7 linked regions of the Homo sapiens genome follow. The protein of the gene in region 5 interacts with the protein of the main gene of each other region in a pairwise test. Each region holds a gene or a part of one and is shown on either strand. Other genes may lie near its edges. The genes, in order: A2M, CHAT, MECP2, DNALI1, SPATA12, POGZ and KRTAP26-1.

The links.
Region 1: the proteins of SPATA12 (region 5) and A2M interact in binary tests that used the Homo sapiens proteins (3 or more experiments, as listed by UniProt).
Region 2: the proteins of SPATA12 (region 5) and CHAT interact in binary tests that used the Homo sapiens proteins (3 or more experiments, as listed by UniProt).
Region 3: the proteins of SPATA12 (region 5) and MECP2 interact in binary tests that used the Homo sapiens proteins (3 or more experiments, as listed by UniProt).
Region 4: the proteins of SPATA12 (region 5) and DNALI1 interact in binary tests that used the Homo sapiens proteins (3 or more experiments, as listed by UniProt).
Region 6: the proteins of SPATA12 (region 5) and POGZ interact in binary tests that used the Homo sapiens proteins (3 or more experiments, as listed by UniProt).
Region 7: the proteins of SPATA12 (region 5) and KRTAP26-1 interact in binary tests that used the Homo sapiens proteins (3 or more experiments, as listed by UniProt).

The regions. Positions count from the first base shown.
Region 1 is NC_000012.12:9,098,762-9,102,739, reverse strand, and holds part of A2M (alpha-2-macroglobulin isoform a precursor), read left to right. Parts: intron 1-1,065; coding exon 1,066-1,293; intron 1,294-1,532; coding exon 1,533-1,596; intron 1,597-3,216; coding exon 3,217-3,359; intron 3,360-3,978. UniProt on the Homo sapiens protein: Is able to inhibit all four classes of proteinases by a unique 'trapping' mechanism. This protein has a peptide stretch, called the 'bait region' which contains specific cleavage sites for different proteinases.
Region 2 is NC_000010.11:49,612,382-49,616,957, reverse strand, and holds the start of CHAT (choline O-acetyltransferase), read right to left. Parts: upstream 2,922-4,576; 5' UTR 2,769-2,921; coding exon 2,483-2,768; intron 936-2,482; exon of another isoform or gene 906-935; coding exon of another isoform or gene 866-905; intron 457-865; coding exon 356-456; intron 1-355. UniProt on the Homo sapiens protein: Catalyzes the reversible synthesis of acetylcholine (ACh) from acetyl CoA and choline at cholinergic synapses.
Region 3 is NC_000023.11:154,091,137-154,095,114, reverse strand, and holds part of MECP2 (methyl-CpG-binding protein 2), read left to right. Parts: exon of another isoform or gene 1-737; intron 738-1,565; exon of another isoform or gene 1,566-2,905; coding exon of another isoform or gene 2,906-2,931; intron 2,932-3,978. UniProt on the Homo sapiens protein: Chromosomal protein that binds to methylated DNA. It can bind specifically to a single methyl-CpG pair. It is not influenced by sequences flanking the methyl-CpGs.
Region 4 is NC_000001.11:37,559,878-37,563,855, reverse strand, and holds part of DNALI1 (axonemal dynein light intermediate polypeptide 1), read right to left. Parts: intron 2,300-3,978; coding exon 2,121-2,299; intron 1,776-2,120; coding exon 1,611-1,775; intron 1-1,610. UniProt on the Homo sapiens protein: Involved in sperm flagellum assembly.
Region 5 is NC_000003.12:57,063,508-57,067,485, reverse strand, and holds part of SPATA12 (spermatogenesis-associated protein 12), read right to left. Parts: intron 1-3,978.
Region 6 is NC_000001.11:151,410,813-151,414,790, reverse strand, and holds part of POGZ (pogo transposable element with ZNF domain), read left to right. Parts: intron 1-2,394; coding exon 2,395-2,495; intron 2,496-3,019; coding exon 3,020-3,166; intron 3,167-3,978. UniProt on the Homo sapiens protein: Plays a role in mitotic cell cycle progression and is involved in kinetochore assembly and mitotic sister chromatid cohesion.
Region 7 is NC_000021.9:30,318,459-30,321,829, reverse strand, and holds KRTAP26-1 (keratin-associated protein 26-1), read left to right. Parts: upstream 1-1,514; 5' UTR 1,515-1,794; coding exon 1,795-2,427; 3' UTR 2,428-2,706; downstream 2,707-3,371. UniProt on the Homo sapiens protein: In the hair cortex, hair keratin intermediate filaments are embedded in an interfilamentous matrix, consisting of hair keratin-associated proteins (KRTAP), which are essential for the formation of a rigid and resistant hair shaft through their extensive disulfide bond cross-linking with abundant cysteine residues of hair keratins.

The sequences.
Region 1 (3,978 bases), on a different chromosome or scaffold from region 5:
GGTGATCATATATGTGTTGTCACCAAAATATACATTAAGATATGAACAAAATGTTTTGCTCAAGGATTCACTAGTGCTATTGGGAGCTGGGGATGAAGGTAGAGGAAGCCTGAAAGGAGCTAAGGAATAACTTCTACAGGAAGAAAAGTTGGAAATATAACCCAAATAGGGCCTCTGAGGTATTAGAATCCAGATTGCAGGGAGCATTAAAAATAGTCAGCCTAGGCCAGGCACGGTAGCTCACGCCTGTAATCCCAGCACTTTGGGAGGCTGAGGTGGGTGGATTGCGTGAGGCCAGGAGATCGAGACGAGCCTAGGCAACGTGGTGAAACCCTGTCTCTACAAAATATACAAAAAATTAGCTGGGTGGGGTGGCATGCACCTGTAGTCCTAGCAACTCAGGAGGCTGACTGGGAGGATCACTTGAGCCCCAGAGGCAGAGATTGCACTGAGCCAAGATTGTGCCACTGTACTCCAGCATGGGCGCCAGAGCAAAACCCTGTCTCAAAAAAATAATAATAATAGCAATCAGCCTAAGATAGCCCAGAAGAGGTAGACTTCAGCTAATTCATCAGCTCAGCTCTTAAACCAATGCTTTCTACCAATGTCTTCTCAGACCCCTAAGGTTACAATATTTTATTTATTCATAATACCCATTCAAAATCCACCCTAAAAGAGGCAGCTGCTTTCTGAAAGCACAGTTCTTCCATTTCTAGAGATTATTTACTCTCCTCAATGAAGTTTCATAGCTCCAGTGTCTCTAATTGCACAGGTAAAGCAGTCAAAGAAATTTCAAGCAAGCTAATCAGAGCAAAGGATGCCTCCTTTTATGCTCTTAAGAAATATAAATCTCAATCCCAGGAGGCTCTGCAGTGTAAAGTCACAAAGCATGCCTACATTTGAAGCAGAGAAACAAAATCAGGGGTCCTTCTCCCACTTTTCATTGTGGAACAAAAGATTTCTAGCTACTAGTTAAGGTAGGACAGTAAACTTACGTAGTTTTGTGAGAACATTAATCTTTATGACGTATAATCTAAAAATAATATAATTTTTCTAATTCATTAGGTCAATTACAAGGATCGTAGTCCCTGTTACGGCTACCAGTGGGTGTCAGAAGAACACGAAGAGGCACATCACACTGCTTATCTTGTGTTCTCCCCAAGCAAGAGCTTTGTCCACCTTGAGCCCATGTCTCATGAACTACCCTGTGGCCATACTCAGACAGTCCAGGCACATTATATTCTGAATGGAGGCACCCTGCTGGGGCTGAAGAAGCTCTCCTTCTATTATCTGGTGAGAAGGGAGGTTACTGCGTTGACTTCACTGTAGACAAAAGCTCTCTGTGGAGCAAGTAATCATGAAGCTCTTTAGATGTCATTACTTCAACTTCTTATCCATGTTCCTTTTGAAAGTTTGATTTCTCTTGAGGTGAATTATTGCCGGCAGGGACTCAATAAAACAAGTATATTGAAGTGAGACTGAAGCGTGTTCTCTCTGGCACATTTAATTTCTTTTTATTTCCTTTTTTGCAGATAATGGCAAAGGGAGGCATTGTCCGAACTGGGACTCATGGACTGCTTGTGAAGCAGGAAGACAGTGAGTATTTCCATCATCTCTGCATTGCTGCCCCATTCTGACCCATTCAGCCTTACACCACGGAAGTATCAGAATACTTTCCCTTTTTTTCCATAGGTTTTTGGGGGAACAGGTGGTGTTTGGTCACATGAATGAATAAATTCTTTGGTAGTGATTTCCGAGATTTTGGTGCACCCATCACCCGAGCAGTATACATTGTACCCAATTTGCAGTCTTTTATCCCTCACCCCCTTCCACCCTTCCCCCTGAATCCACAAAGTCCATTGTATCATTCTTATGCCTTTGCATCCTCATAACTTAGCTCCCACTTCCTAATAGCTTAGCTGCCACTTCCTAATAGCTTAGCTCCTACTTCTGAGTGAGAAGATATGATGTTTGGTTTTCCATTCCTGAGCTGGGAATATCAGGAATACTTTCAAGTAACGAGAGACCATTTCCATCTAATATTAATTAAAAGAAAGTTGAGGGAGGGAAAACAATAATGGTTTTTTTCTCACCCTTTATCAAATATGTGTTGTCTTTTTTTTCAGCCTATTTTCTTTGCGTTATTTAAAATATTGGTGTGGGCCAGCTATGATGGCTTACGCCTGTAATCCCAGTACTTTGGGAGAACGGGATGGGAGGATCTCTTGAGGTCAGGAGTTTGAGACCAGCCTGGTCAACATAGTGAGACCCCATCTCTATAAAAGTAAATAAATAAATAAATAAATAAATAAGAACAAAGGGGGAAAAATAAAATACATAAAATATTGTTGTGTATAATCTATGCTTATTCCAGATTTTTAAACCATAAATATTCTTGAACCTCTTCTCAAAATGAGAATTGTGTTAGAGAATGGGGTGGAGAAAATGTACGATTTCAAGGTATGTTGTATATACCAGGTCTTGTGCTGAGTCATTTATGTCATTTATATTATTATAAATATCTTTTTTCCCTTTCAAGATAGTTATGATTTATGAAGCATTAAATTGGGTACTTCTACCGACTGAAGCGGACTCTTGCCATGAGCAAATATGTCATAATATAAACCTTTGAAGGTTGCTCCTAGTCTAGTAGACTCTAAAAGATAACTTGCTAGAAAAGTATCAGTAATCTACTCTCTCATTAGTTCTTGTAGCAACACAGAAGCACCATAGCAGACTGAAGGAAACTTAATGCAACCTCTAAAGAATCTACATAGGCATCAAAAAATAACTTCTGAAGGAGCATGGTGTTCCTCTTATGGAGAAAGAACCAAATATTGGCTCATAGAAGGTTAAAGAGCATGTAGCATGAATACAATGTGTTGAACTCTTACTCTTACATCTCATAACTTCAGGTTCTATTTCCCTCTTCTAGTATGAGGCCTAGATCAAATGGTAGTGAATTGGATGTCTTCATACCCTTAACTAGCATCAGAACATTAGGTGGGTGAGCTGAAGCTTAAAGCTGGTGAAAAATCAACAGAGTATATGATTTATGAGAGGAGAGAGGGCTTTGATAGGGTTTTTTTCTAAAGCTAGAGTCCTTAGAGGTAATCATCCATTTGTTACATCTACTGTTTATTATGTCTGTTACATCTACTAATGGAAATAGTCATTAACCTATGATGGCTTCCTCTCATTCTCTTTGTGCCCCAGTGAAGGGCCATTTTTCCATCTCAATCCCTGTGAAGTCAGACATTGCTCCTGTCGCTCGGTTGCTCATCTATGCTGTTTTACCTACCGGGGACGTGATTGGGGATTCTGCAAAATATGATGTTGAAAATTGTCTGGCCAACAAGGTGTGTGTTTTAGATCATAAAATCTTCAACATGTAAAACTAGAAGTTACTATTGTTATCATTTGTTTTACACATGTGAACATTAGGGCCAAAAGGGTTAAACAAATTCCCCAGAGACATTCAGCAAGGTAGTGGCAGAGTCACACTAAGAAGCAGAATCACTTGATTCCTTATACAAAACTCTCAAACTTCTCCTAGCAGTGCCTCTTACCAATTACACAGTTCAGAGTATGTTATTCCCTTCTTCTATGATGAAACGTTGGGAAATATGTAAGCAAGTTTTTAAGACTACTAAGGAGCCAAAAGAAAAATGCAAGAGCACCTAGACCCATGCATGTCCCACCACAATTAATGAGCACCTTGCCGTGTATCAAAGATAAAAATGGCATTTCATGACTAGTAATTTATAAGAATAATTAGAAATAATTCTACTGGCTCAAGTGATTCTTGAGAATGAAAGAGAAGTGTAGGGAACAAAAAGCTTCAGGATTGACACAATGCCAACCCTCCACGAAGTCAAGCAGAGTGGTTATACATTGTACATGAGGAACACTCTGCAAATGCGAGTGAATGCATGGGTAAACCTGGAAATTTGCTTTTCTGACCTTTTGTTCCAATTT
Region 2 (4,576 bases), on a different chromosome or scaffold from region 5:
GAGTAGGAATTCAGCCCCACCCTAAGGCAAAATCACTGGGCTCAAAGCTATCAGAAGTGGAAGCTGGGATGAAGAGAGGCCCTGGAAGGAAAGATAGGGCCTAGCCTGGCCAGGGGATTTGGAAGTTAAGCTCTTAGCATTTCCTTGGCACCCTGAGGCCCGTCTCAGCCCCTCCAGGCCCTTCTGGGATCCTCAGCAAGCTGGGGGTGGAGCTGTAGCCTGGGCCTTGTGCCAGTAGAGGGCAGGGCTGGGGCCAGGCAAATGCTGGGGGCCAGTCCCACTCAGGACTGTTCTAGAAGCAAGGGCATGTAGGTGGGGAAAGCAGGGTTGAGAGAGGGCTCCAAAAGTCACTCACAGACTCCTCACTGCTGGGAGTTTTTGCTGCCATCTTACGGGGGACCTTTTCCAGGATGGGCGTCTTGGTGAGTCCTGGTGCAGGGATGCAGAGGTGTGGACCTGGGGACCAAGAAGTGGGAAGCATCAACACAGCAGCCACATAGGCCTGTCACAAACCCTCCACCTCCCGCCAACAGACCCCCACCCCAGCCCCATGAGGAGGCCAGAGCCTGACAGCTGTGTATAGGGGTCTCATTGCAGGCGTGGCCCCAGTCTCTACTTCCACCTGTACGTGCTGACCACAGTGTTCTCTCTGGGCCCCCATATGGGAGAGAGTGGTTCCTAAAGTGAGGGTCTGCTCTCATGAGTCTGTTGTCACCCAAGGCCAGCTGACCACCCTGGGGCAATCCAAATCCACCAGGGGTTGCTGGCAGAGTGCTGCCTTTGTTCCTGCCTGGAACCCAATAGATAAGTGCTTTGCCAATCAAACTCTCTCTTTCCCACTAGCTTCTCAAGGGTAAGACCATACCTACTGTGCTCAGTGCTTCATCTCTGCATTCCGGCCACATCTCTGGTGTGGAGTAGGGTGAATTCCCTCACTCCGTTGGTGGAGGGAAAGGAATGCATGCGTGGGTGAATGGAGGCCTTTAAGGCCCTGTGCTCCAGGATGCATCTGGGCTAATTGGGAGCCTGGCCTGTGGCCAGGGCAGGGAGACTCTGGGCCTGCTGGAGGCGTTGTGACCTAGGCAGTCTCGGGTCTGCAGGCTGCCAGTGTAGATGCCATAGGAGTGCCCAGGGAGGTATGCAGGGAGGCTGGGCAGCCAGGGCCCCTAGGGGCCACCTGCCTTAGTCTGGGGAGAGGCAGATTAATTTTGAAGGTACAGTAGAAGTGAGCCAGGCCAAGAGGGCAAAGACTGTTATTATTAGGCTGTGGGTCACAATTGCTACCCTCTGAGATCCCCCTGAACCTAAGCCTCCACAGGCACATACTCATGTTTTCCACCAGCCCACCCTCTATTCTCTCAAGTCTAAAGCTGAGGTTTAGCTAATTTCCTCACCCCTCTCCCCACCCAACACCACCCCTACCCAGAGGCAAGCACCGCCCATGTATGGGCACCTGGCAGGGTTGTTGCCAGGAACAGAGAGTCCAGAAAGATGGATGAACCAGGCCCAAGGATGGAGGAGCCTGGGGCTGCCTTGCAGTGCTGGGCAGAGAATGTAAAGCCCTTGCTGGCACAGTGCAGGGACACTCTCCACAGGCTTGTTCCCACGCCTCCCAGTGCTGTGGGTTCGTAGGGGCTGCCCCCAACTGCAAAGTGAAAGAGGTGGCGTCCTGGTGAGGATTCACCGGAGCATGGCAGTCTTTTGAGAGGACAGCAAGGACAAGGTCAGGTTGGTAAAGGCCCTACAGACCATGCAGCCAATGCCTCCTTTTGCTCTGGCCCAGAGCCCCCCCCTCCCCCCCATTCGGGAGACACTAGTCAGGCTTCAGGGACCCTGAGCTTGAAGAAGGCAGAGCTGGGTGGGATGGTTTCCTGGTGGTCCCACCTACCAACTCTTCTTCCTCCATCACTCCTGGGCAGATGCCTAGAGGATGTATGTGTATATATGTCTGTTTGTGTTTTGTGCCTCCCACCCATGCTCCTGCCAGCCTGGCTTTCCAAGGGCTGCCTGCTCTGCCCCGAAGGTCCAACCCCAGTCTGGCCGGTCATTCACAGGCTGTCATCGGCTATGTCCTGGCTCAGACTTGCCACCAGCCACTGCTCCTCCTTCCCCACCCCCTGCTCCCGGGAGAAGCGGTTGCCAACCAGCAATTCAGGCGAGTCGGGTCAGACCCAAGGACCCTCCGACTAGACACAGAAAGCGCGGACCTGGTCACTTAGCAGATGCTGGGCCAAGTGAAGTGAGAACATGCGCTTGGAGTCCCGAAGCCCTGATGGTTAAGCCTCCCCAAGCCCAGGCACCGAAGCAACGCAATCCTGCAGCTTCCTAGCTGACCCCCGACGGCCGCTGCTGCGCAGGACTCAGAGGACTCCACGAGTCCTGGGGCCTCTCGGCCCCGGTGCTGTCCCTGGATAGAGCCCCCGACCGCCGCCCTTGCTCCCGGCACCGCGCTCCGCCAGCCCAGCCCAGCCCTTCTTCTCACCTGCTCTCCTCGGCTCTGCTGCCTCGGCCGACGCTGCACCGCACCACTCAGGAGTGTGGGCGGGGGTGTGAGCCGGAAGGGGTGGGGGGCGTGTCGCAGCGCGGGGGTGGGGGCTGCAGCCTGGGTTCCCGGCAGGGCCTCCGACGTCGCCCGGGTCCCCGCGGCCACCCGACTGGAGAAAGCAAGCTGGCCGCACTTCTCTCCTTCCTCTTGTACCTCCTCCCTCCTCTCTCTTCCATTTCCCCCCTCCCCCAAGCCCCCTCTTCTTCGCTGTCCTCAGCCCCATCCCTTCCCCAGCTCCCCGCCCAGGGATCTCAGCTCCCGGCCCCCAGAATCTACCCGGAGCGCTTCCCGGAGGAACTCGGGCAACAAATTTAGGCTCTAGAAGGGGGCACAGAACACTGTCCCGCCCATGCCTCCTGCCCCTAGCTCAGCATTTCCCAGTCACCGCACTTCCCCAACCCCATTATTCCAGCCTTGGGGTGCTGCTGCTGAATCCTGGAGAGGGTTGGGTCTGAGGAAGTCTCTGCTCGCTGCCCTCCTCTCCCCACCATCCAGGCCAGTCTCAAACCCTGCTACACCATCTTTCAAAATAATAATAAGAAACAATAACTGGGATCAATATTCACTGCAGGACTTCCCTTTCTGTTACCATCCCATTCCTGCTGGCACTATGGGGTGGGGAGCAGAGGTGGGGTGCTACAGACTTGGGACAATCCTGATGGCAGACCTGAGGATGCTTAAGGACTGCGGCAAGAGGCAGGCTCTCCTCTCAGACAAAAGCATCCCCCACCCCAGATAGAGACCCCCACACAGAAATAGCACAGACAGACCGACAAAGGCAGACTCCGCCCAGGCACACACAGCCCGACTCGCAGATCGAGGACAGACATGCGCACAACAGCAGAGCAGACCCTCACAGGCGCAGCTAACACACAGGCGACCCTGACCAGCCGCCTCTTCACGCTATGATGGGAAGACTCTGCCTCGATCATCAGACTACGGTCTTCGGGACATGGAGTGTTGCGCGAACGCTGGCTTGAGGCTCTCAGGGCTGGGACTAAGGATGGGAAACTTTCCTGACAGTCCTGGGCCGCTGCTCCCACTCAGGACAGGGTGGCAGTGGGGGTTGGCACCAGATCCCACACTCGCATCTCTCCCTTCAAGACTCAGACCCTCGGGACTGACAGGGATACAGCAAACACCAACCACGGCTCCCCCACTCCTCCTAGGACAAGTTCTCTAATGAACACACACATCACATCATACACACATTTCCAGAGGTCGGACTCTAAAAGATGGGCCGTTTTTCTTCCTCTGCCGGAATGCTCGGCTCCTACTCCTTTCTCAAAGCCTCAACGGGGCGGGATTCTGGTCTGAAGGGAAGCTCAGCCCAGGCACCTCAGAGCTCTGAGGCTGGTGTGGGGCGTGTCCTCAAAGGGCGGGGCCTGGCGTGCCTAGCTGGAGCGGGTCCTCAGGCTCCCCCGGGCGGCATCCCCGGGCTCTGCGCTAGGCCTGGAAAAGAGGGTCTATCCTGGGCTGAGGGGAGCATGGTGCTCCTTGGTGACCGTGGGTGACAGCCTTTGTTGGGTTTGCTTCCTTCCTATCCCCTTTTCCAGGTAGAAAAACAGCTACAGGTGCCTACGTGTTAGTTTGGCTTAGGTCTGGATTGGGACTTGGAGACCCAGTTCACCCTCCCCTCTGCTCTGGCCCTGCGCGCCTCCACGCACCCCCCACCAGTAAAGAGACTCGGCCTCCTGGGACAGACACAGTTTATTGATTTGGGCGGAGGCGCCGCGGTGCAGCGGCCCAAGTTTGGCACTGGGAGCAATGGAAGGAAGGACAGACAGATGCAGGCTCTACACAGGGGAGCCGCAGGTGGGGACTCAGGGTCCTCTTCACCTCCGCAAGGAGCGCGATGGCTTCGCTGGCCTCGGTGCTCCAAGCCCCATTGGACAAGAGAGAAAGGGATATGGAACGGGTCACAGGGAGGGGATTTGGGCAGAAGTCAAGGTTGAGGAGTGGCTGGGGTACTCGCTGGAGGAGGTGGGCCCTGAGCCAGAGCTGGCCAGTGGGCTTGCAGAGCAGCCCCCT
Region 3 (3,978 bases), on a different chromosome or scaffold from region 5:
TGTATTCAAAGGGTTATGGTGCTTGCATTCTGTGTGTATATGTTTGTAATTTCCAACCAGAGTCGTTTCCCGTGCCTGCCCTGCCTCTGTGCAATCTAGTCTAGTAGGGTAGGGAGGCAAGCTGTGGAGTTTGAAAAAAAAAAAAAAAAGCTAGATGAGTTTAATAGGCTGTTACCCCCTCCAGAACATTCCTCCCATGTGGAGATGAAACGAGAAGTTCATTTCTTTAACCTAAAATAAAGAACAACAGAGATAAAATTGTTAGTTCCTTATTGGAGCCTGGTTTCCATTGCTAATGTACCTGCTTGGGACTCTGCATGATAAATGACGTGTCCTGGAACCTGAAATCTTTTATAAAGGTTAATATCAGCAGAAATCTTTTAATTAGCTAAGAGCAGCTTGTTCTCAAGCTGCCCGAGTTATCTTGGAGGAGAGAATCACAGGAAATGTTTGATATTTCTAGTAACCAGTGTTTTCAGTGCGTGGGGTAAAGCACACTCCTAGACTGGCCAGTCCCAAAGAGTGTGGCAGGACACCTGCTTGTTTTCCCTGCCCTCTGCTATGGTGACATCCTTGCAGACCAGTCTTGCGTGGCTGGCAGACGCAATCTTTTTTTCTTGGGTAGAGCATTATCACCGCTGCGATGGAAGGACCTTGTCCTCGGTGCCTCCATACCAGCCCTTTCCAGTGAAACTACTGCTGTCCCGGCAAGCCCCTGTGCGTGTGCATCATTCCGGGTAGGACAAGATGTGAACAGGTCCCTCTTCTTTGGGCTTAAGTAGAAGTTGTGCTCTTCTGCTTTTACCTGTGTGCTCTTCTGCTTTTACCTGTTCTCTTCTGCCTTTCTCTTGCAAGAAACCTGTCGAAAGCTTGCTTTGCATGCCATTGCTTAAATACTTTGATGGTATGTATGGTATGTGGGATAACTGAGTGGGAGCCGGAATTGGGGGGTGGGCAGGGCATCCCCACCCCCACCCCCACATCAAAGGGGGAATGACCATTTCGTTAGAGAATAAAGCCTGAGTCTTATAACTTCTTCAAGCACATGTATGCTGGGTCTCCTGGCGTGTGAATGTGTTCCCGCTGTGCTGTGTGGCTGTTTTGCAGTTACTGTAGACACTGTAGTCTGGGCTCTCATTATTGCCTCTGAAGTTGACAGGACCAAGCCTTAGTAAGGATGCACTTGTCTTCCTAGCCCAAGAGCTAGGGGTGTTTTATATATATATTAACTTTCTTTTTTAGATTTCATAAACTGCTCTCATTTTCTCTTTTCTTTCTTTCTTTTTTTTTTTTTTTTTTTGAGACAGTCTCACTCTGTCACCCATGCTGGAGTGCAGTGGCACGATCTCAGCTCACTGCAACCTCTGCCTCCCGGGCTCAAGCAGTTCTCTGCCTCAGCCTCCCAAGTAGCTGGGATTACAGGCACCTGCCACCACGCCTGGCTAATTTTTGTATTTTTTTTTTTTTTTTTTTTTTTTTTTAGTCGAGACGGGGTTTCACCATCTTGGCCACGCTGGTCTTGAACTCCTGACCTCGTGATCCACCCGCTTCAGCCTCCCAAAGTGCAGGGATTACAGGCGTGAGCCACCGCACCCAGCCTCTGGCTCTTTTCTTTTTGACATGAAATCTTAAGTTAATTATCTTAAACTTTAAGAACTAGAAGGATTCTTAGTCCAGCACCATCAGTTTACAAACAAAAAAAACTTGTGTCCCTGAGAAGTTGTGACTTTTCCAGGGCCTCCTAGCCAGGATACCAGTTTGGTTTTTATTATATAGCTAGCCGAGTAATACTATTAACTTGACTTCTGGGATTTCAAAGTATTCTATGACTTGACTGTTTAAGGGAATTATGAGGCCTCACTGAACCTCAAAAGATAATTTTAGGTACCATCCTGGTAGCTGTAGAGCAGCAACAGACCAGTAAAAGACTTGGTTGGTGTTGCCCTTCTTCTGGGTTTGATTACATGAGTAATTGTGTGAATAGTCTCTAAGTTGTATGCTCTGAGCTTTCGTTTTTAGCTTATAAAAGTGCTACTCTTGGGCCAGCATAGTATCAGAAATTAGCTAATTCATATGGGGCAGTTTAGGCTTTAACTAGGAAATGATGGTTATCTTAATGACAAAAAAGGTACTGACAAAAGTCCTTTTTTGAACATGTGTTCAAAAGAAAAAGAGAAACTATCAAACTAATAACTGAGTTTGTTGAACATCGAGATTGACTGATCTGAGAGGCTTAAAACTGATTGCCCTGAAATAGACTTGCATGTTTTGGATGATGGCTTTGGGTCTCCCAGAGCACTTGGTTTCCCTTGGTGCTGATTTTTTCTCTCAGGATTAAAGCCCCTTTATGTGATGTTGTTACAGCAGCTTATTGCAACTTCATTCAGCTGCTTGAAAAAGAAGGGAGACTGCCTCTAGGTTCCATGTGTTCTTTCAGGGATGGTATTTTGATGTTGCGTATTCTCTTGAACATGTATTCTTCCCTGAGAATTTCTGTGTGCCGTGGTAGAAGAAATACTTGCCAGAAATCGCCACTCATGGTATGCTTTTGTAGTGTCGAAGTGTCCCCTAGAGGTGACAAGGCTTGTGATAGTGTTGATTCTAACAAGCATGAATCTTTCCTTTATTTTAGCACTGTGTGTTACGTGCCAGTAATTTGCAGCTTATCCTTTGTTTCTAGCTAGGTAAGCTGGGAAATAGCCTAGTACTTTGTCTATGTGTTTATCTTCAAAATGTCCCAAATAGCCCTGGGAAAAAGGTCGTGCAGCTCAATGGGGGCTTTCAACTTACAATTTTCTTTGTTTTAGGCTCCATAAAAATACAGACTCACCAGTTCCTGCTTTGATGTGACATGTGACTCCCCAGAATACACCTTGCTTCTGTAGACCAGCTCCAACAGGATTCCATGGTAGCTGGGATGTTAGGGCTCAGGTAAGTAACCTTCCTTTTTTTTTTTTTAGTATATGTCCTGGTTTGGCCATCTGTTTTTTTTTTTTTTAAAAAAAAAAAAAAAAGGAAAAGAGGAAAAAAATATACTACTCTTGGACAGTATAAAAGTACCCCAAAGACTAAAGACATAACTGTGCCAAACTGTGCCATATAATAAAAAAAAGTCACTTCCCTGAGCCCTGAAAGGTCAGTGTGTGTAGGGTTACTTGGTCGCCACAGCGTGATCTGGGGGCGGGCGTCAGATTAGAGCCGGAACTGGTGATCTGCAACTTCAGTTCACCTTGAAGCAGGTCAGCTGAGCTGAGAGCGCTTGCACTGAGCCCTTTTGCGCTGCTGCTGTTGCCTTAGCGGTCTTCAGCATGTGTTTGCTTTGGTTTGGGGTAAATGGCTTAGTGGTCAACATTAGTGAGCAGTGGTAATGCATTTTCAGATATGGGAACTGGTATGTGGTTGGTTCCCTAGAAGGACACCCTCCTGAAAGCTGTCTCAGAACACCGGGGGCCATGGCTAATGTCATGTGCTTGCTACACTCCTCCCATGGTAACTAAAGAGAGTACCCAGATATACATCTGGTTCTTGGGACTCTAGAGGAGGATGAGTACTTTGTAAAAACCTGGGGGCCCCAGTCATTCTAGGTCTGACACTCAGGTGCTGTATCAGCTGCAGTTTGAACTACTTGGCACCATTGTGTGGACTTTAGTTTTGTAAAAATGAATGGTTCCTTAATTTCTCAACCTTCAGGCTCAACATCTCAAGCTGTTTGTTGTTGTTGTTGTTGTTGTTGTTTTGTTTTGTCTTTTTGATTAGTGGTCACTCCGCATTTGATGTTTTGACATGTGGATTTCAGAACTTCTGTGTGGTAAAGCAGAATGTTCCAATTGAATTTTCCCATTTTTTTTCCCCTAAGCAAAAATGTGAGTTTTCACTTATGCGGCCATTGTGATTCCGACTGAGACCCTAAGTCGTTCTTTGTTGTCTCTCTAGTGGTTTCTGACACCTCAGTGTGAAGCTGTTGTAGACATCCATAAG
Region 4 (3,978 bases), on a different chromosome or scaffold from region 5:
GTAGGTCTATCCTGGGGACAGCAAAGCTGCTTTATTTGCAATGCAGTTTTGAGCCAATAAAAATAGCTCACTTCCTGTATTACAAGCCTGTAATTCCAGCACTTTGGGAGGCCAAGGTGGGCAGATCATGTGAGGTCAGGAGTTCATGACCAGCCTGGCCAACATGGTGAAACCCCATCTCTATTCAAAATACAGAAATTTGCCGGGCGTGCTGGCACATGCCTGTAATCCCAGCTACTCAGGAGGCTGAGGCAAGAGAATCACTTCAACCCGGGAGGTAGAGGTTGCAATGAGTTGAGATGGTGCCATTGCACTCCAGCCTGGGCAACAAGAGCAAAACTCCGTCTCAAAAGAAAAAAAATTTAAAAATGCCAACTTCTAAAGAATCTTTCACCCTGGAGATTACAAGATTGCTTTTAAATGTTAGAAACATGCTAAGGTATTTGGTTTGCTCTTGTTGCTAATCCAGGAAGAACTGAGGAACTCAGGCTTATGAAAAAGGAATATGGCAGTTAAGGAAAGCAGCCTCAGAGGCTGCTAAGGAAACAGATTCATCTCTGGCTGTGAAAGTTTCTTGCTTTTCTTTGTGCAACAAGAAAAGTTCCAGTAGTGGTTAACAGAAAGCCTTCTTTATCGCAAATGGCCAGTCCTGCTGGTGTGTAGACCAAACAAGCCTGCAATGTCAAGATTGTAAGGTTTCTATCTGAGCCTAGGGAGGAGAGGGAGATCCATCCAGGGTCCTTTGGCCAGGGCCATGGGAGAAGGCCACTAAATGTCAGTAGGCCATCTTTCCAGAACAGTGATGCTCAAACTTCTGCAAACATTAGAATCACCTGAGACCTTGTTAAAGCACATTGCTGGACCCCAACCCCGAATTTTCTGATTTGGTAGATCTGGGGTGGGCCCAATAATTTGTCTTGCTTTGCCAGGTGAGGACGATGTTGATCTAGGGCCTACCTTTTGAGACCTTTGGACCAAACAGCTGGGAGTTGCAGTGCCTGTAGCATGGCCTCCTGCCCAGCTTTGTCCACCAGCCCCCTCCCTCCTATCACCTCAGCTGGATAAAAGACCACTGCTGGCATCGGACTTCGAGGAAGAGCACCTGTGCCTGGGTTCCCCGACCACATTTCTGGGGAAGGTTTCTGATTTGAAATGGTTCTTCCTCTCAAAGGGCCCTGCTGCCCTTTGACTTCTTCCCTGGTTATGCCCTGAAACAGGGCCTCAGAGGAGACAGCCATGGGATGGCACTACCACGCAAGCCACCTGGAGCCCAGCCCCCTCCAGAAAGGCTCCAACATACCAGCTTCCAGGGGAATGGAGTTCCACTTTTTGCCATATCCACCTCTTCCTTGAGGATGGGCAACTTTTTTCCAGGGAGAAGAATCCTCCACTGGAGAGCCAGGCTGAGGCGCCTCAGAGATTTGGAGTTGAGAGTAGAGACCCCCTCTGGAGCCCTCCCCTTCTCCCACCACCAAAGTCAGCTTCCTTTATCCTTTGGCAGTGCATGTGGACAAACATTTAAAAGCCATGGAAAAGGAACCGAATGCCTGGCCTGTGGGGCTGGGTCGCAGGGCAGGGGGCACCTCCACCCCACCCTGCGCGTTGATTACCTTCAGCTGCTGATTTGTTCGCTTCAGGAACTGAATCTCCTCATTGTGCTTCTTCTCCTCCACCTGCCGCCTCTCGCTCTCCCGCTTCTCAGTGGCTTCACATTTTGCCTTCTGCTCGTTCACTTGCCTCTCCAGGTCTCTCTTTTCCGTCTCCAATTCTGCGATCTGAGGAGAGAATGCCCAGTCATCCTGGGATGTCGCCAGGTGAATGGAATGGTGTGAGCCTGGGTGGAAGGGACATGGGACATGACATTGCCAGGGTATATACTGCCACCCAGTGGGAGGTCAGTGCCTGGCATGGAGCGTCTACAGCGGAAACAACTCTGCCAAGACCACCAGGCTGGCCATCATACTCAACCAGGGGTCCCTCACTGAGGTGATGCAAGTCCAGGTGTCGTGACTGTCAGCAGAGCACCTTAGGAGGTCAGAATGTAGTGCTGGAATGATAAGCATGTGGCCCTGAGGTTTACAGAAGAGATGGGACCAAGGGTCACGGTAAACCCCACTCACTTTCCTCTCCATGTCTGACTTCCCCTGCTCAGCCTGCAGTGCCTTCCTCATGCCAAACGCCACGCTGCTCTCGTACAGGGTCTGGTAGGCAGCGATGGTCATGCGGATCTCGTCCCGGACTCGCAGCAGCAGCAGCCCCCTCTCCGCACAGTTGATGGTGACCTCCCGGATCAACTCATCTTCCAATGCACACACACCATGAGATCAGACAGGGCGTGGGGAGGGGGCTTGCAGTATGTCTACTGCAAACACCCTTCCTCTTGGGAAGGACATTAGGGTGTTCTCGCTTGGAGACAAAGTGCAAGGCCTCAGAGAAGGGCCTCAGGGAGGGTGCCTTCAGTGGCCCAAAGAGCCTTGCCATGCAGTCACTCCTCTGAACTTGGCACTTGTGAGTAGCACAGTCAGCAAGACTGGGTTGGCCAGAGCAAAGGAGACAAGAGGCTCTGGTTTGTTTACAGCACTGGGTCCCCTCCCTTCCTGCCTTAGGTAAAAACTGGTTACTACTCGAAAAAACCTGACTTTTTCTGTTTAAAGATGGCAGCTGTTTTAAAGCAGCTGGGACATCCTGTGTGCCCCCTTGGCTGCACTGGTTTGAGGGAAATGGCAGGGTCTAGAGCTTGCCCATCTATCTCCCCATAAATGCTGACCTGGAGGGCAAACCATAATAACACACGGATAGGGAAGCCTGCTAGACCCTGCAGCTGCCTGAGGGTTTGGAGGTGGTTTGCAGATCGGCGTCCATAAGAGCCAATGAGACTGGGCTGGGAGACAGCCATTTGACACCAGCACTCAAGGAGGTGCATCTTAAATCTCTCGTGTCTGTGGGTTAACAACAAATCACAATATTTTTCTGGACCAAGGGCCAAATATTGATGGATGGATGGATGGATGTAAATACTGAACATTAATCTTTCTGACTAAAAAATTAGCACATGCTTATTATAGAAAATCTTTGAAAAAACAGATGGAAGTTATCGTTTTACTCCAAACATCTGCTAAGGGGTGAGGAACTCAAGTTGCCAAGAATATAGTGGTTGGCAGCTGGAGGACTTGTAGAAGAGGCGGGGCTGGTGTAGGGAAAAGAAGGAGAGATCAGACTGTTACTGTGTCTACGTTGAAAAGAAAGACACAAGAAACTCCATTTTGACCTGTACCCTGAACAATTGCTTTGCCCTAAGATGCCGTTAATCTGTAACTTTGCCCCAACCTTGAGCTCACAGAAACATGTGATGTATGGAATCAAGGTTTAAGGGATCTACGGCTGTGCAGGATGTGCCTTGTTAACAAAATGTTTACAGGCAGCATGCTTGGTAAAAGTCATCGCCATTCTCCATTCTCGATAAACCAGGGGCACAATGCACTGCAGAAAGCCGCAGGGATCTCTGCCCTGGAAAGCCAGGTATTGTCCAAGGTTTCTCCCCACGTGATAGCCTGAAATATGGCCTGGTGGGATGGGAAAGACCTGACCGTCCCTCAGCCTGACACCCGTGAAGGGTCTGTGCTGAGGAGGATTAGTAAAAGAGGAAGGCCCCTTGCCGTTGAGATAAGAGAAAGGCCTCTGTCTTCTGCCTGCCCCTGGGAACTGAATGTCTCAGTATAAAACCTGATTGTACGTTTGTTCTGAGATAGGAGAAAAAACGCCCTGTGGCGGGAGGCGAGACATGTTGGCAGCAATGCTGCTCTGTTACTCTTTACTCCACTGAGATGTCTGGGTAGAGAGAAGCATAAATCCGGCCTACGTGCACATCCAGGCATAGTACCTTCCCTTGAACTTATTCGTGACACAGATTCCTTTGCTCACGTGTTTTCTTGCTGATCTTCTCCCCACTATCACCCTGCTCTCCTGCCACATTCCTCT
Region 5 (3,978 bases):
TATTATTATTATTATTATTATTATTATTATTTTGAGACAGAGTCTTGCTGTCACCCAGGCTGGAGTGCAGTGGCGCAATCTTGGCTCACTATAAGCTCTGCCTCCTGGGTTCACGCCATTCTCCCGCCTCAGCCTCCCGAGTAACTGGGAGTACAGGCGCCCGCCACCACGCCCGGCTAATTTTGTTTTTGTATTTTTAGAAGAGACAGGGTTTCACCGTGTTAGCCAGGATAGTCTCGATCTCCTGACCTTGTGATCCACCCGCCTTGGCCTCCCAAAGTACTGGGATTACAGGCGTGAGCCACCGCGCCTGGCCGACAAATGTTATTCTTTCTGGGTTGCCATATTTTGTGGTTTTTAAAAAATATATTTTTATTCATTTATCTGGTGACTTGAAATTTCATGCAAGTACAGGTCCTTACAGACAATTTCTATTGGAAAATCACTTATTTTGGGTGTGTATTAGGGTTTGGAGAGAAACAGAACCAACAGGATGTGTGTCAATCAATCGCTCATCTATCTATTGAGAGGTTGATTTTTAGGAATTGGCTCATGTGATTGTGGAGGCCAGGTGAGTCAAAAATCAGCAAGGTAGACTGGCAGGCCGGAGACCCAGGGAAGAGTTGCAGTGAGCCCAAAGGCTCTCTGGGTAGAATTCTTCCTGCTCTGGGAGGTCGGTCTTTTTCTATTAAGGCTTATAGCTGATTGGATAAAGCCCACCACATCATGGAGAATAATCTGCTTTACTCTAAGTCCACTGATTTAAATGTTAATCTCATCTAAAAAATACCTTCACAGAAATGTCTAGAATGTTTGACCAAATAGCTGGTTACCATGGTCTAGCCAAGTTGACACATAAAATTAATCATCACAGTGGGTAAAATACTGTTTGAGGTTGTTCAGAAGAAAGGAAAAAGGCAAAAGCCTGGGCGCGGTGGCTCACGCCAATAGTCCCAGCACTTTGGGAGGCCGAGGCGGATGGATCACTTGAGGTCAGGAGTTCAAGACCAGCCTAGCCAACATGGTGAAACCCCGTCTCTACTAAAAATACAAAAATTAAGCCAGGCATGGTGGCGGGTGCCTGCAATCCCAGCTACTTGGGAGGCTGAGGCAGGTGAATCGCTTGAACCTGGGAGGCGGAGGTTGCGGTGAGCCAAGATCATGCCACTGTACCTGGGTGACAGAGTCAGACTCTGTTTCAGAAAAAAAAAAAAAGAAAGAAAGGAAAAGTGTAATGGTTGGAAGTGGAAGTGTGCTGTTGGTACAGATAGGAGAACATTTCGGAAAGAATTCCCTCCCCTTTGATTGACTGCAAAATAAGTCCCTCCCTTGTTCTCTTGCAATTACAGGTGGACCAGATGGGTGGGCAGATTGGCAGTGGGGGTGCAGAGTTTCTTGTTCTGATTGAAAGGATTTTTTCTTACATTTTAGGGTTTTTTTTTTTTGTTTTGGAGACAGAGTCTCACTGTGTTGCCCTCCTGGCCTCAAGTGATCCTCCTGCCTCAGCCTCCTGAGTAGCTGGGATTACAGATGTGAATTACTGTGCCCAGCTCTTAGATTTCATTTTAAGACTGAAGACCTGAGAGTTCATGGGCCTAAGTAAAAGGTGCCATTTATCTGCAACAAATTGGTGCATGCTCCGTAGATCTAGCTGTAGGGGGCTGTGTGTGCTAATGCAGCATTTGTGACTCAGCCGTAATGAGGATGACCTTGCCTCTCCTGTTCCGCAGGCTACCACCTAGCTGTGGTGGGTCACTGGCCACAGAAACTGTAGGTATCTGGGGCTGCCTGGGTGGGAACTCAGCCTGTATGAGAACATGGTATTTGGAAGACATTAAACATTTATTATAGCTTTTATTTTTATTGAGGTATAATTAACATACCACAAAATTGACCCTTTTCAAGTACCCAGTCTGTTTTTTAGCACATGCATACGGTAGTGCAGATATCACCACTAGTTCCAGAATATTTATCATCCTAAAATACAGTTTTTCTTTTGCAAGTAATTTCTTTTTTTTTTGTTTTGTGATGGAGTCCTGCTCTGTTGCCCAGGCTGGAGTGCAGTGACATAATCTCAGCTTACTGCAACCTCTGCCTCCTGGGCTCAAGTGATTCTCCTGCCTCATCCTCCTTAGTAGCTGGGACTACAGGTGCACACCATCACACCCGGCTAATTTTGTATTTTTCGTAGAGATAGGGTTTCACCATGTTGGCCAGGCTGGTGTCGAACTCCTGACCTCAAGTTATCTGCCCGCCTCGGCCTCCCGAAGTGCTGGGATTACAGGCGTGAGGCGTGAGCCACTGCGCCCGGCCTTTTGCAAGTAATTTCAACATTTAAGACCATGGCCTACTGGATTGGTCCCATCAGCAAATAAACATGCAGTTATTTCTCCCAACTTAAAAACAGCAGAACCCTCTCTCCACCCTACTTCTCCCTACAGTTATACACCCATTTCTCTTCAGTTTAGAGCAAAACTTTTTGAAATAATTTTCTGGACTTACTAATTTTTTGCCTTCTATTGTGTCTCAAAAAATTGTGATAAAACACACATAACGTAAAATTTACTGTGTTGACTATTTTTAAGTTTTCAGGTCAGTAGTGTTGCGTATACTGATATTATTGTGCAACCAATCTGCAGAGCTTTTCATCTTGTGACACTGAAACACTGTATCCATTAAACAGCAACTCCCATTCCCCCCTGCCCCTAGTCCCTGGAGACCAGCATTCTACTTTCTGTCTCTGAATTTGACTGTTCTAGATACCTCATATAAGTGGAATCATGCCATATTTGTCCTTTTGTGACTGGCTTATTTCACTCAGCATAATGTGCTCAAGGTTCACCCATGTTGTAACATGTGTCAGAATTTCCTTCCTTTGGGCTGGGTATGGTGGCTCATGCCTGTAATCCCAGCACCGAGGAGGCGGATGTTGAGCCCAGGGGTTCAAAACCAGCCTTGGCAACATGGTGATACCCTGTCTACAAAAAATACAGCAATTTGCTGGGCGTGGTGGCATGCACCTGTAATCTCAGCTACTTGGGGGCTGAGATGGGAGGATCACTTGAGTCAGGGAAGTTGAGGCTGCAGTGAGCCGTGATCTTGCCGCTGCATCCCAGCCTGGATAACAGAGGGAAACCCTGTCTCCAAAAAAAGAAAAAAAAAGAAAGAAAAAAAAAAGAAAGAATTTCCTTCTTGGTTTTTGGTTTTCTGTTTTGTTTTTTGAGACGGGGCCTCACTCTGTCACTGATTGCTGCAGTGGCACAATCTCAGCTCACTGCAACCTCTACCCCCCAGGCTCAAGCAATCCTCTGACCTCAGCTTCCGGGTTAGCTGGGACTACAGGCATGCACCACTATGCCCAATTAATTTTTTTGTATTTTTGGTAGAGACAGGGTTTTGCCATGTTGCCCAGGCTGGTCTCGAGCCCCTGAGCTCAGGCAGTCCCCCTCCCTGGGCCTCCCAAAGTGCTGGGATTACAGGCGTGAGCCAGCACAGCTGGCATGGAATTTCCCTCCTTTTTAAGGCAGAATATTATTCAATTCTATGCATTTGCCACATTTTGTTCTACCATTCATCTGTCATGGACACTGAGTTGCTTCCACCTTTTGTCTATTGTGAATGATGCTGCTATCCCATTCTCTTTTGAGCCCCTCATTTCAGGCAGGCTTGGCTTCCACTCCCCTCTCCCCAGATATCTCTTACCAAGGTCTACAGTGAGTGCCTGGTTGCTCATCCCAATGGCCTGTTCTCTGTTGCCATCCTTCCTGACTACCAGCAGCGTGTGATGGAGTTGGTCACTTTCTCTTCCTCGAAGCCTTGTCTCACCTGGCTTCTAGGATGCCCGACTCTCCTGATCCTCTTCCCACATCTCTGTTAAGGAGCACCCCAACCTCCTGGTTGCTCAGGCCCAAAGCCTGGGGCGTCATCTTTGACTTTTGTATCTCTCTTCTCTTCACTTGTCAAAAGACTCTACTTGTA
Region 6 (3,978 bases), on a different chromosome or scaffold from region 5:
TCTTTTTTTTGAGGGAGTTTCGCTCTTGTTGCCCAGGCTGGAGTGTAGTGGCGCCATCTTGGCTCACCGCAGCCTCTGCCTCCCAGCTTCAAGCGATTCTCTTGCCTCAGCCTCCCAAGTAGCTGGGACTACAGACATGCATTACTGTGCCCGGCTGATTTTGTATTTTTAGTAGAGACAGGGTTTCTCCATGTTGGTCAGGCTTGTCTTGAACTCCCAACCTCAGGTGATCCGCCTGCCTTGGCCTCCCAAAGTGTTGGGATTACAGGCATGAGCCACCGTGCCCAGCCAACACATGTAAATCTTAACCTGATGCTTGTACATTAGAAATTGCTTAATAAGTGTTTTTATTATTGATGTTGCATGACAGCTGTGAAAATAGAGCTGATAAATAGGTTATAGGAGAAAGAGTGAATGAGATTGCCCAGGGAAAACATAGACTAAGAAAGGCCTGGACAAAATATTGCTTAAAGGTGTTCTAGAAGAGAAAAATGAGAGAGGTAAACAAATCGGGGGGTGAGTGGAAAAGAGATAATATCGTTATGTTGCTAGTTAACTGTTTCCCAAACATGTGGTTAACTTTCATACCTACTTGCCTTTCCTCCTGCTTTTCTCTTGGTCCTCTCTCTGGCTGGCTGAGCCCCATTCTTTGACAATTCAGCTTTTATATGTTGTTATAGCTTTTCCTCATTCCTTTATGCAGAATTTCTTATTTATCCATGTCCTCATAGCACCTAATGTACCTGTAGACAGTGTTTCTAAATGGAGTTGCAGACCTCTTTGAGAATAAATATGAAATGTTTGAATCCTCTTCCTAGAAAAATCTACATTTTACTCTTTTGCAAATAATTTCAGAGAAAGCCTGGATTCCTAGAGGCCTGTTCCATAGACCCCAGATTAAGAACCCCTGGCTTTTGTTTGTTTGTTTTACTTTAAAAAATTACTTGGCTAGGCACAGTGGCTCATACCTGTAATTCTGGTACTTTGGGAGGCTGAGATGGGAGGATTGCTTGAGCTTGGGAGGTCAGGGTTGCAGTGAGCCATGATTGAGCCACTGCGCTCTAGCGTGCGAGACAGAACGAGACTCTGTCTCAAAACAAAAATCCAGGGTTCTCGGTAGTTAAAAAAAGAAAAAAGAATTATTTCAACTTTATTCATATTTCTTTGGCTGGGGTGTAGGGGGCTGGGGGCGGGGGGAGGTTAGACATTGTCCAGTAAATGCCCAAGGCTTTAAGCTTCCAGTTTTCATATTTGCAAAAACTTGAAACTAATTCCATTAAAGTGACAAAAATGTAAATAATCTCTCTCTTTTTGCCATACTGTATAATTAAAAATATGTAGCAGTTAAAAGTCTTACCAAAATTGGCCGGTGCACTGGCTCACACCTGTAATTCTAGCACTTTGGGAGACTGAAGTGGATTGACAAAAGGATTGCTTGAGGCCAGGAGTTTCCGACCAGCCTGGGCAACATGGCGAGACCCTGTCCCTACAAAAAAAAATTTTTTTTAATTACTTGGGCATGGTGGTGCACCACTGTAGTCCTAGCTACTTGGGAGGCTGAAACAGGAGGCTCGCTTGAGCTCAAAGGATAGTCCTAGCTACTCAGGAGGCTGCGGTGAGCTATGATCATGCTCCAGCCTGAGCAACAGTGAGATTCTGTCTCTTAAAAAAAAAAAAAAAAAAAAAAGCCCAGGCACGGTGGCTCACACCTATAATCCCAGCACTTTGGGAGGCTGGGACAGGTAGATCACCTGAGGTCAGGAGTTCGAGACCAACCTGGCCAACATGAAATTACCAAAAATTGTCTCAGAAGTTTGACAAAATTGTTCATTTGTGTCATAAAATTTTGTCAAAATTTTTTCTCATAAGCTTGACAAAATGGACAATTTCAAAGAGAGTAGGAGGTATTGGAGGCCAGCTGATTAGCAGTGGGAAATCATATGGGCTAGTACCAAGTTTTTGCCTTATTATAAGTATAGAGAAGTGACAGTTCCTACATGCAGTTTGAAATAATGGTGACAGAATGCAGGGTTTGGAATCCGAGATAGTGCCTAAATTTTGAGCTCAGGAAGAAATGGGGAAAGGAAAAAGGGAAACAGTGGTAAGACAGGAGGATGCTGAATTAGGTTAGAGTTGACGATAGAATAACCAATTTAAAATGTCTTATAGATAAAATCTAGAATGAAGCTTTGGTAAGAAGTCTGAGCTACGTACATAAGATTATCAGCAACATATATGTTAAGGTGGAGCCATTTAAAGAAAGAACAGAAGGGACCTATGATTTACTGATTGTTGAAAATCAAAATAAAGGAGGCAGAGAAAATAAAGATTGTGAGTCAGCAGGACTTTTGTCTTATTTTCAAGTGGATTTATTGATTACTTTTCTTCTTACAGCCAAGTGCAAGATCTGTGAATGGGCGTTTGAAAGTGAGCCACTATTTCTCCAGCATATGAAGGATACTCATAAGCCTGGAGAGATGCCTTATGTTTGCCAGGTATTGCCTTTTTCTCCAGGGAGTTTTAGCAGTTTTGCCCTCAGGAAGAATACAAAGAATTTACTAATGAATATTGTTGACCACCTACTGCATACACTCAGTTTAGGAACTCTGAGTAGGTACAGAAGAAATAGTAAACACAGTTTATCTTCAGGGTTTCCATGCAGGAGAAAAACATAAAAGAACATGTCCACAAGTAGACTAGCCGGGAACATGTGCATATTCTAAGGGAGTGTCTGTCTCCTGAACGTGCCCTTTGGAAATTGACAGAAAAGGCTTTATTTTTCTTAGTTAGAGAACATGGATTATTCTTAGACTTTCTGTCCCTTCCTATTTTTAAAGTAATAGCTAAACCTATCACAAACATAGCCCAGCATTACAAAGTCAGGAAAATAATTTGATTTCTATGCATTTGAGAAAACTTTTTTTTTTTAATTTAAAAATTTTTGTTGCTACCTTTTTTTTTAAGGCCTCTCAGTTGTTCACTTCATTCTTAGCCTTATTTTCCCTCCTATGTGACTCAGGTGTGTCAATATCGCTCCTCACTCTACTCTGAGGTAGATGTCCATTTTCGGATGATCCATGAGGATACCCGGCATCTGCTCTGCCCTTATTGCCTGAAGGTCTTCAAAAATGGCAATGCATTCCAACAGCATTACATGAGGCACCAGGTACTAGGCACCAAGCAATTCCCATATTCTCTTGTTTTTTTTTTTTTTAAACATGGATGCTGGGGCCAGGGCTGAGCTAGGCAAATAATTTGGGCAGAGATTATAATATGCATATGTTTGCAGAAATTTATTGAATTCACTTAATGTGCCATGTACTAGTCTAGATGCTAGAGATTTAGTAGTAAACAAGGCAAACAATACAATAAAACATGAAGAGTACTGTGTTGGGGAAATTATAGGATATAGAAAATCACATAGCTATTCTGGGTGCCTAGTAAGGCTTCCAGAAAGAAGTGTTGTTCAATACCTGAGGGATGAATAAGAATGAGCCAGATGAAATAAGACGAAGAACAGTGTGCCCAAGGCACAAAGCAAAATTGTGGAGGTTCAAGAAATTGAGAGAGATTCAGTGTAGGGTGTAAGAGACAGAGGGGTTGGAAGTTAGGCAGGGACAGATCATGGAGGATCTTTTAAGCCATGAAAAGAATTCACTGGGAAGCCACTAAAGGGGTTTTAAGCCCTGGAGTGATGTGTTCAGCTTTAGTTAAGGCTTTATACTGCCTGCACTGCAGAGAATGGATTAAAGGAGATTGAGACTACAGTTAGGGAAACTAGCTAGAAGGCCTTTTTCAGTAGTTTAGGTGAGAGATGATAGTGGCTATTGGCTTTTGAAATAAAAAGAGGGTAGAGTTGAGAGATATTCAGAAGATTTGTGATATTTATGATGTAGAGATGGATTAGGTGAAGGTAGCAATGCAGTAGTTAAGAATAGTGCCTAAGATTCTGTCTTGGGCAGTTGGGTGAATGAGGGA
Region 7 (3,371 bases), on a different chromosome or scaffold from region 5:
AGAACATGTAGTATATACATCTATCCACACATACACACAAGCGTATTGATGTACTAATGATACAGATGTTGGGCTCTTGTTTATATTAGAGAAGAGCAGACATAAAAAGGATCAACATACAATTTCATAAGCATTCAGCTAAATATGACTGTACCTATTACTAACGCCATTCAGCTGATGCAACCAGGATTTTACAAGAAGACTCTAGCAGCTGTATACACAGAGTATTAGGTGATGTCCGAAGTATACAAAGTATCCGGTTATACAAACAGTATTAGGTGATGAGGGCCTGGGGTTGGGGGTTGGAGTGAGTGGGGCTTTCTCAAATACATCAGGTACAAATCGTCTGACCTAAAATACTGAGATAAATTCAACATGTTAGTACAGGACCTCCGGGATTATACCATTTTATTTTTATATTTCTCCCCCAGTAGTAAAATAGTCTAGTGTTGTCTCATTGAGAAACCAACTTTCTGTTTCAGAGATTTCACTCCTCCAGGACAGAGGGAGACTGGATAAGCACAAGTATGTCCCTCAAACACCAAAATAGAAGAAAGTGTTATGATTTAAATTGACTAGCCAAAAGGAATTGGAACTTAGAGCCAGCAGATAATTTAAAATCCCATTAAAATAGCTACTGGAGCCACTGGGTATGTCAGTATGAGAAAAATATAGAGGGATAGTTGAAACTAACTAAAATCATACATTTTTTAAAACAATTTTACCAGAAATACATATTCTCAAATGACCTTTAAAGTACTAAAACTTAGGAAAACAATAATTTATCCTGATGCTTTTCCCTATGTAAAGCAGTTTAGAAGCTCCTTTTTGGAAATTGACATCAAGGCCAATGTAGAAAGCAAAATAAATTCATGTCATAATCAGTGTATTTTTTAACCAAGAACAATATTTTTTCAGTTGGAATATGAGAAACCATGCAATACATAACCTTGAAATAATCATGAAAAATGTCAAGATGCCTGACTTTCTTTAAGAGGTCTACTTCTCTGCTTTTGTTCACAGTAGGATACATAATTTTAACTTGGCCCAACTTCATTATCTATATTCAAGAATATCTTAAACATAAGCCAAGGTTTCAGCTTCACTCAGCTTATTTATTTATTGAAATGACTAAAATGAGCACATATTTTTGAATAAAGATATTTTGGTAGAAAGTCAAGTCTGAATAGAATTCTGAAATAAAGCAAATCACAACTTAGAAAAATAAATTCTAACCAAGCAAAACATATTGAAATTGTCCATATTTCTGTCATATAGTTTGCAAGGATTTTCATTTTCTCTTATACTTGTTCCAAGTTACTCACTTCTGGCAATTTCCAAGAAGAATAGAATTTTTCTTCAAAAAGATGTAAGTTCTCACTGTTTCAAAGAAGTTGCTACAACTTTCAAAGACAATTCTAAGAGAGGAATCTTAAGAATGTTTGTGCAATGGTGGTTATAATTGGAATAAGCACATAGGCTTTAAAATGTGTCTGTTTTGTTTGGATAATTTAAGAAGGATAGATCCTATTAAAACTCAGTCGCATTGGTTTATAGATAGACGTAATCAATGGATGGCATTGCAAGGAGCATCCAGTTTTATGGAGGGTGGAAGCCTCACTTCCTTGGCTATAATAAAGAGTTCTGATGCATCTTCATACAACAAGAGGAAGAGTCTGCACGCAGAAGCACCACCTTCTAGGGATAAATAAAGGGTCAAGCTAAGGAAGGGCAGAACAAACTTCAGACACTCACTTCTTTGCCTCAACTTCAGCCTGCTCTCACAACCTCACTATGTCTTGCCCCAACTACTGCTCGGGAAACTCCAACTCAGGATCTCTCAGAACCTCCCGCCATATTCCTCTCACCTCCATCGACCTCTGCCCTACCAGCGTGAGCTGTGGAGATGTCCTCTACTTACCCACTAGCTCTCAAGACCATACCTGGGTCACAGACAACTGCCAAGAGACCTGCGGTGAACCAACCAGCTGCCAGCCGGTCCACTGTGAGACCGGCAATCTTGAAACCTCTTGCGGTTCTTCCACTGCTTACTACGTGCCCAGGCCTTGCCAAGGAAGCAGTTTTCTTCCTGCTTCTTTCTTCTCCAGTTCCTGCCTTCCAGTATCCTGTAGACCACAGAGGTATGTGTCCAGCGGCTGTCGTCCACTGAGGCCGCTGCTCAATAGTTACCAGCCCATAGGAGACTGTGTGCCCAATGCCTATCGCCCCCAATTCTGCTTGTCCAAGAGTTGCCAGCCCCAAAACCTCCTCACTTCTGGATGCCAACCCTCGAGTTGCTTGGCCTATCGTCCTCAAAGTCTTCACGTTGTGTCCAGCAGCCTCAGACCTCTGGGGCCTCTGTTCAGTGGTTGCCAACCTCTGACCCATGTGTTCAGCACGTGTCGTCCATCTTGCTCTGGACTGTGAAACCAGCAGCTTCTTTGTTCCAGTGAATAATCACTCTGAGCATCCACAACAAAAATTCAAACTCCATGGACTTTTGCTTCTTTGCTAGTAGCAACTGATGTTTCTTAGTTTTACTGTGCCTGATCTAATGCAAGCTGCTTCTCTCGCATGTTTTATCTTGTTTTCATCTTTCCTTGACATCAAAAAAATTAGTTTACAATGCTATTCAATGTTGCTCTGGTCTGGGAAGAATGTATTTGTTTTGCACTATAATAAATGCGATTAAGTCCAAATTAAGAATCTGGTTCAGCGCTTTGTGTTTCATGACTTAATTTCAACACAGAAATAACCAACGTCAATTGCTTGCAAGATGACTGAGCTGGACAAGTGATACTCAACCATATATTCTTACCTGACAGTAGAGGGATTGTTTGATGGTTTATTCCTTAAGCTGCTTTTTAGACTTCTGACCCTATGTACTTGAGAGACCCAAAAAGTCCTTGGGAAAGCTGTTTTGAAAAGGAAAAATTAGGAGTGATGTCTCTTATCTCTCTACCCCATGAACACACTTCCACCAGAATGTTCTTTCTAATTGCAAACCTAACCAAGTTTCTGCTTACGCCTTTGATGGCTTCCTATAATCTATTCCCATAAGATAAATATTCAAACCTCTTAGCATGACACCTAGTTCCCTCACTGTCTTTCTCCCCCATACCTCTCTGGCTTCATGCTCTTTTGCTCAATATTGCAAATAATAAAACTAAGCTCCTGCGATCCTGACTTACACATGGGTCCCCAAACATATGCTTTTTACAGTCATCCATCCTTTTGCATAGGTCATCATCGAGAGCGGTATGTTCTTCAGCTCTGTTTTGAAAACTCATACTTGCTTTTACAAAAACACAGTCTTGAGTTCATTAATTAATCTTTTGATTTATTCAGAAACAAAGGTACTGCTTGCATAC